Linked DNA regions of Homo sapiens: region 2 is linked to region 1. A link means that fine-mapping ties the variant in region 1 to the expression of a gene that starts in the linked region. Tissue or cell type: whole blood. Region 1 holds a variant in brackets; the other region holds the start of a gene. All regions are shown on one strand. Distances are from middle to middle.

Evidence for each region. PIP is the estimated chance that this variant, and not a neighbour inherited with it, causes the effect.
Region 2: SLC35F5 starts here. The variant in region 1 is fine-mapped to the expression of SLC35F5 in whole blood (TOPMed, PIP above 0.99). The same link has a PIP of 0.9 or more in atrial appendage.

What each region holds. Positions count from the first base shown.
Region 1 is chr2:113,808,001-113,810,684 of GRCh38, reverse strand. All of the region lies in intron 2 of LOC105373570 (a long non-coding RNA gene), which reads left to right. Among named protein-coding and RNA genes, the nearest start is that of SLC35F5, 53 kb to the right of the region's middle. The variant A/G (reference allele first, on the strand shown) is at 1,575.
Region 2 is chr2:113,755,550-113,758,233 of GRCh38, reverse strand. It overlaps SLC35F5 (solute carrier family 35 member F5), which reads left to right and starts at 1,592. Exons shown (of 16, transcript NM_025181.5): 1 at 1,592-1,864. The coding sequence starts at 1,825. RefSeq lists enhancers at 817-866, 1,047-1,226 and a silencer at 1,437-1,666.

The sequences.
Region 1 (2,684 bases):
GCAATGAGCTGAGATCACGCCACTGCAGTCTAGCCTAGGTGACAGAGTGAAACTCTGTCTCAGAAAAAAAAAAAAAAAAAAAAAAAAAAGAATAAAGAAATGGATACTCTCTACATAACTTTTAACAGTTACATAGCATTGGTTTAGGGATATACTATAATTTAGTAAATAAATTTGTCTCTTTGTATATCTAGGTTGTTTTCTATTTTTCACTATTATAATCACTTCTACAATGAACATCCATGTAGCTAAATCTTTGGCTCATATTTACTCATGTGCTTAAGTAAATCACTAGAAATAGAATCACTGGTTTAACAGTGAAGTATACATTTTCAAGGCTCTTGCTATAGGGTGGTAGTCTGCAAAGTTGAACACCATTAACTCCTCTCTTCCCTGTACAAGCAAGCCACTCATCCCATCAAAAGGTGATGTCACTCCCTTATCCCTGGATGACTTGCCTGTAGAATATGGTGGAAGTAGGGCCACCAAATAAAATACCCAGTTATAATATTGTGATATAATAAGATATATATATTTGGTCTTCATCCCCAGTTTCTGGCACATAGCTCTTAAAACCTTTGGAAATTTCTTATAGAGGAAAAGGAGCGTCTTTTGTAAGGGAAAAGACTTTTGGAAAGCCCTAGAATGAGGAGCTGTTTGTCAAGGGAACTAACCAGGTGATTGAGGCTTGAACAAGTTGGACCCTTCAGCTCATCCTCTGACCTGCAAAGAAGGGAGAGGGGCTAGAGATTGAGTTCAATCACCAACGGCCAATGATTTCATTAATTATGCTATGGCAATGTGATGGACCTCCATGAGAACCCTATGTGGCAGGGTTTTGGAGAGCTTTCAGGTTGATGAACACATGGAGGTGCTAGGAGAGTGGTAACCCAGAGAGGACATAGAAGCTGCATACCCCACCTCTATACCTTGTCCCATGCATCTGTCAACTGAAGAATGATGAGGTTCATAAATTTGTAAAGGAGAGCTTTATTCTTTATAAAGGGTTGCAGCCTGAGGGTGGCTATTCTGGCAGGCTGAGAAATGTAGCCTCTGGGCAGAAGCTGGAAACAGACATTTTGAGGGAGTGGCAAAAGGAACATGAATTTATGCTGAGCAGGGTGGCTGAATATACATATTTAATAAGTTATAGGAGGAGACATGAATATTTATGAAAGGAGAAATGTGTGCATGCACAATTGAGCTTCATGTCCCTTCATGGGATCCCTGTTCAAAAAAATGGCCTCATTAGCATAATCTGAGGATGGAGTTTTCAGCCCTCTTATGTCAAAAGGTGAAGCACGGGACATGAAAACCCTTATTGTGCATTCTCCATAGACTGGCCAGAACCACTCCGTTGTCAGTGGTGTCTTATCAGGAAGGAAGGCTGGTCAGTTGCTTTGTCAAAATCCAAAAAGGGAGGAGCAGTGTCAGATGGTTGGTTGAAATCAGTGGTGCAAAGAGTCTTTTGAAAGGGTTGGTTTCTGTTTAACCCTTAGGGAAGAAAGCCTAACGGCAGCTAGCAAGGAAGGGGGTATAATGAGATGTGTCCTATCTCCCATCGAGTCATCGCT[A/G]GAAACTCAATTTTCAAGGTTTCTTGGGGGTACTCTTGGCCAAGAGGGGGTCCATTTTGTTGGTTGGAGGGATTAGGATTTTATTTTATTTCTCACATCTCTTCCATCTGTTTATATATATATCCTTTAAAATTTCTTTTGTAATAAATCAGGAATAGTAAATAAGCTTTCCCTAGGTTTGTGAACCATTCTAGCAAATTATTGTAACTGCCCAATGGGTGCACAGATAAAATCAACTCACTGAGACTTCAGCATTGCAGTAGGTGGAGTTATTACTCAAATCAGTCTCCTCAAAGGCTCAGAGTTAGGGTTTTTCAAGGATAGTTTGGTGTTGGGGGCTAGGGAGTGGGGAATGTTGATTGGCTGAAGATAAGGTGATATGGGTGTGGCCTTTGGGTGAGGGCCATGGACCCCATGGTTAGGGTGGATAAGAAATGCAAAAGTCTGCTGGGTGCAGTGGTTCATGCCTGTAATTCCAGCACTTTGGGAGGCCGAGGCAGGCGGATTACTTGAAGTCAGGAGTTCAAGACTAGACTGGCCAACATGGTGAAACCTAGTCTTTACTAAAAATACAAAAATTAGCCGGGCGTGGTGGCAGGCAACTGTAATCCCAGCTACCTGGGAGGCTGAGGCAGGAGAATTGCTTGAACCCAGGATGCGGAGGTTGCAGTGAGCTGAGATCGTGCCACTGCACTCCAGCCTAGTCAACGGAGTGAGACCCCATCTCAAAAAACAAACAAAAAAACAAACAAACAAAAAAAGAAATGCCAAAGTCTGAAAAGACATCTCAAAAACCAATCTTAGGATCTACAATACAATACAATAGTGATGTTATCTACAGCAATAATTGGGGAGGTTACAAATCTTGTGACCTATGGAGCAATGGCTGGTTATTGTTTATGCTTACATCTTAGCAGAATTCAGGCCTCTCTCATAACCATAACCTTGTGGACTTTCATTAGTTTTACAAAGGGGGTTTAGTTTTGGGAAAGGCTATTATCATCTTTAAGGTTAAGCTATAAACTAAATTCCTCCTAAAGTTATCTTGGCCTACACCCAGGAATAACCAAGTACAGTTTGGAGGTTAGAAGCTAGCTGAAGCACACTATG
Region 2 (2,684 bases), 52 kb after region 1:
GCTCTGTTGCCCAGGCTGGAGTGCAGTGGCGCGATCTCGGCTCACTGCAAGCTCCGCCTCCCGGGTTCACGCCATTCTCCTGCCTCAGCCTCCCGAGTAGCTGGGACTACAGGCGCCCGCCACCACCCCCGCCTAATTTTTTGCATTTTTTTAATAGAGACGGGGTTTCACCGTGTTAGCCAGGATGGTCTCCATCTCCTGACCTCGTGATCCACCTGCCTCGGCCTCCCAAAGTGCTGGGATTACAGGCATGAGCCACCGCGACCGGCCTGGTTGGTTTTTTTTTTTACTCTGCACAATAGGTTTCTGAATGACTTATTAGAGGTGTTTGATGCTGATAGTTTGAAACTGATTCGATCAATTAAAAAATGTTCATTGGTATTGTTTTATTAGTTGCTAGAATATGCATTCAACTTCACTGAAACGAGACTTAAAAGGTAAGAGGTACACTACATCGCGACTATAGGAGTAAGAAAATTTAATTTCTTCACGCCATCTGACCAAGATGTTAAATTACTGAACCCTTTAGTCTTGTTTTTGTTTTGTAGATAGAAATCAAGATGCTGGACAAACCTTTCTCATGGAATAGTCAAAATATTTAAGGAACAAATCTATACAGTTTAATAACTGCCAACATTTGGCAGGGCTCATGCCTGTAATTCCAGCACTTCGGGAGGTCGAGGCGGGCGGATCACTTAAGACTAGGAGTACGAGACCAGCCTGGCCAACATGGCGAAACCCTGTCTCTACTAAAAAATATAAAAATTAGCCGGGCATTGGTGGCTTGCGCCTGTAGTCCCGGCTACACTGGAAGCTGAGGCTGGAGAATCGCTTGAGCCCGGGAAGCAGAGGTTGCAGTGAGCTGTGATTGTGCCACTGCACTGCAGCCTGGGTGGCAGAGAAAGACCCTGTCTCAAAACAAACGAACGAACAAAAAATTGCTGACGTCTGTGAGGTTCTTATTATGTGCCATGAATTGATCTACGTCCTTCACATATGTAAACTCATGCAATCCTAGCATACACACAAAAAACCAATGTGGCAGGTACTATCATTATCGTAGACAAGGAAACCGAGGACCAGAGAAGTTGAAGTAGCTTGGCCTAGGATGTAGGTTGTAACTCCTAGAGCTGAGATCTTGTTTATATACAAAAGGTTTCAAGAATCAAAAGTACTCTAAGCCACTTTGCGTTTCGGCTGTCATCGAGAAAGGGATATCCGAAGTTTCAGGTTCGCAGTTTGTGAAACGGAACGGCCAGCTTTCGTTCTAAGGCGGGCGGAGGTTTAGCCACTCCCTCGTCCTTTGCTCTGCCCCAGACACCCACGCTCGCTTTCCTCTTCTTCCTCCACCTCGCCCTACTTCCCTTCTTCCTATCTTCTCTCTTCTTTCGCCTCGCCGCCGCGAGCCCTCGCTCGGCGACCAGAGCCTCGCATTACTTCCCCTAGCTCCGCCAAGCCTCGCTGCATACGCGACCGCGCGCAGTCCGCCGTCGCGCCCCTATGACGTCACCCGCGCGCCACCGCTTCCGGGCTGGGGACTGGGGGCGGGGCCGCGCGGAGGGCAAGCCGGGGGCGGGGCCGGGGCCAGAGCAGATCTCCGGGCCTCCGCGGCCATAGCTGACTGTGCCGTCCCTTCCCCTCACCCGCTCCACGCCCTCCTGGGCCGAGTGGAGTTGGGTGGTGTCGGGAGCCTCTCCCTGAGGGGCACCGCGTCTTCAGGAGCTGGGCCTCCAGTGCGGCGCGATGTCAGGCGCGGTGACAGCTCTGTGAGTCCGAGGCCGCGGCCGTGGCGCTGGGCGGCTGCGGGGCCTGACCGGTCCGCTCATGGTGCCGCCACGACGCCATCGCGGGGCAGGAAGGCCAGGTAGGCAGGCAGGGAAGGGCCCCGACATCACCGGAGCCCAAACCGGGACGGAGTGCCCACCAGCAGCACCACCTCCTGCCCTCGGTGGCAGCAGGAGCGCCTTGACCGAAACCGTGAAGGTCTCTAGGGGCGGAGGGAGCGGGAGCTGACAGGGGCGCCGGAGCCCTGCGCCCACCGCTGGCAATTGAGGAAGCCGTGCGTGCGCCCTCGCCTCGGCTCCCCGGGGAGGCGTCGCTGCCTTAACTGTCTTCCCCGCTCCAAAACAGAAGGATGATTTCTTTTCCCAGCTGTTTCTTTTAAAATGACTGGATGTTTTGATAGAGGTGGGTGGAGGAGCATGGAGAATCCTTTTCTTTTACCACTTGAAGAGATTGGAAAGGTGCCTTCAAGACCCACAGCAAATCACTTACTCTCCGATAACCAAATTCCACTCCAGCAGATCAGGGACAGAAAAGACACTTTTAGAAACAGTGTCTAGACGCTGTCCCCAGGGATGGATTCCTCTGGATGGAGAGGTGAATGGAGTTCCGTATTTGTGAAACTCAGAGAAGCTATTTTCTGGTAGTTAACTGTTCTTAAATGTGCCGTATGTTGTATATTACTCCCCCTCCCTGCCCGCCCCGTATCGCGTATCTCTCTAAGTATAATCTGAAGCGTGCAGTGGATACCATGAAAGTACTGAGAAAGGTGGCAAGTATGTTTAACACATTTTGGTCCTTTTCATTGATTTGCTTTGAGTTTGAAGATGAAGAGTAAAAAACGATGTGATGAATCTTACCTTGAGTTATTCACGTTTTCATAGCATAATTTCATGGTTGTT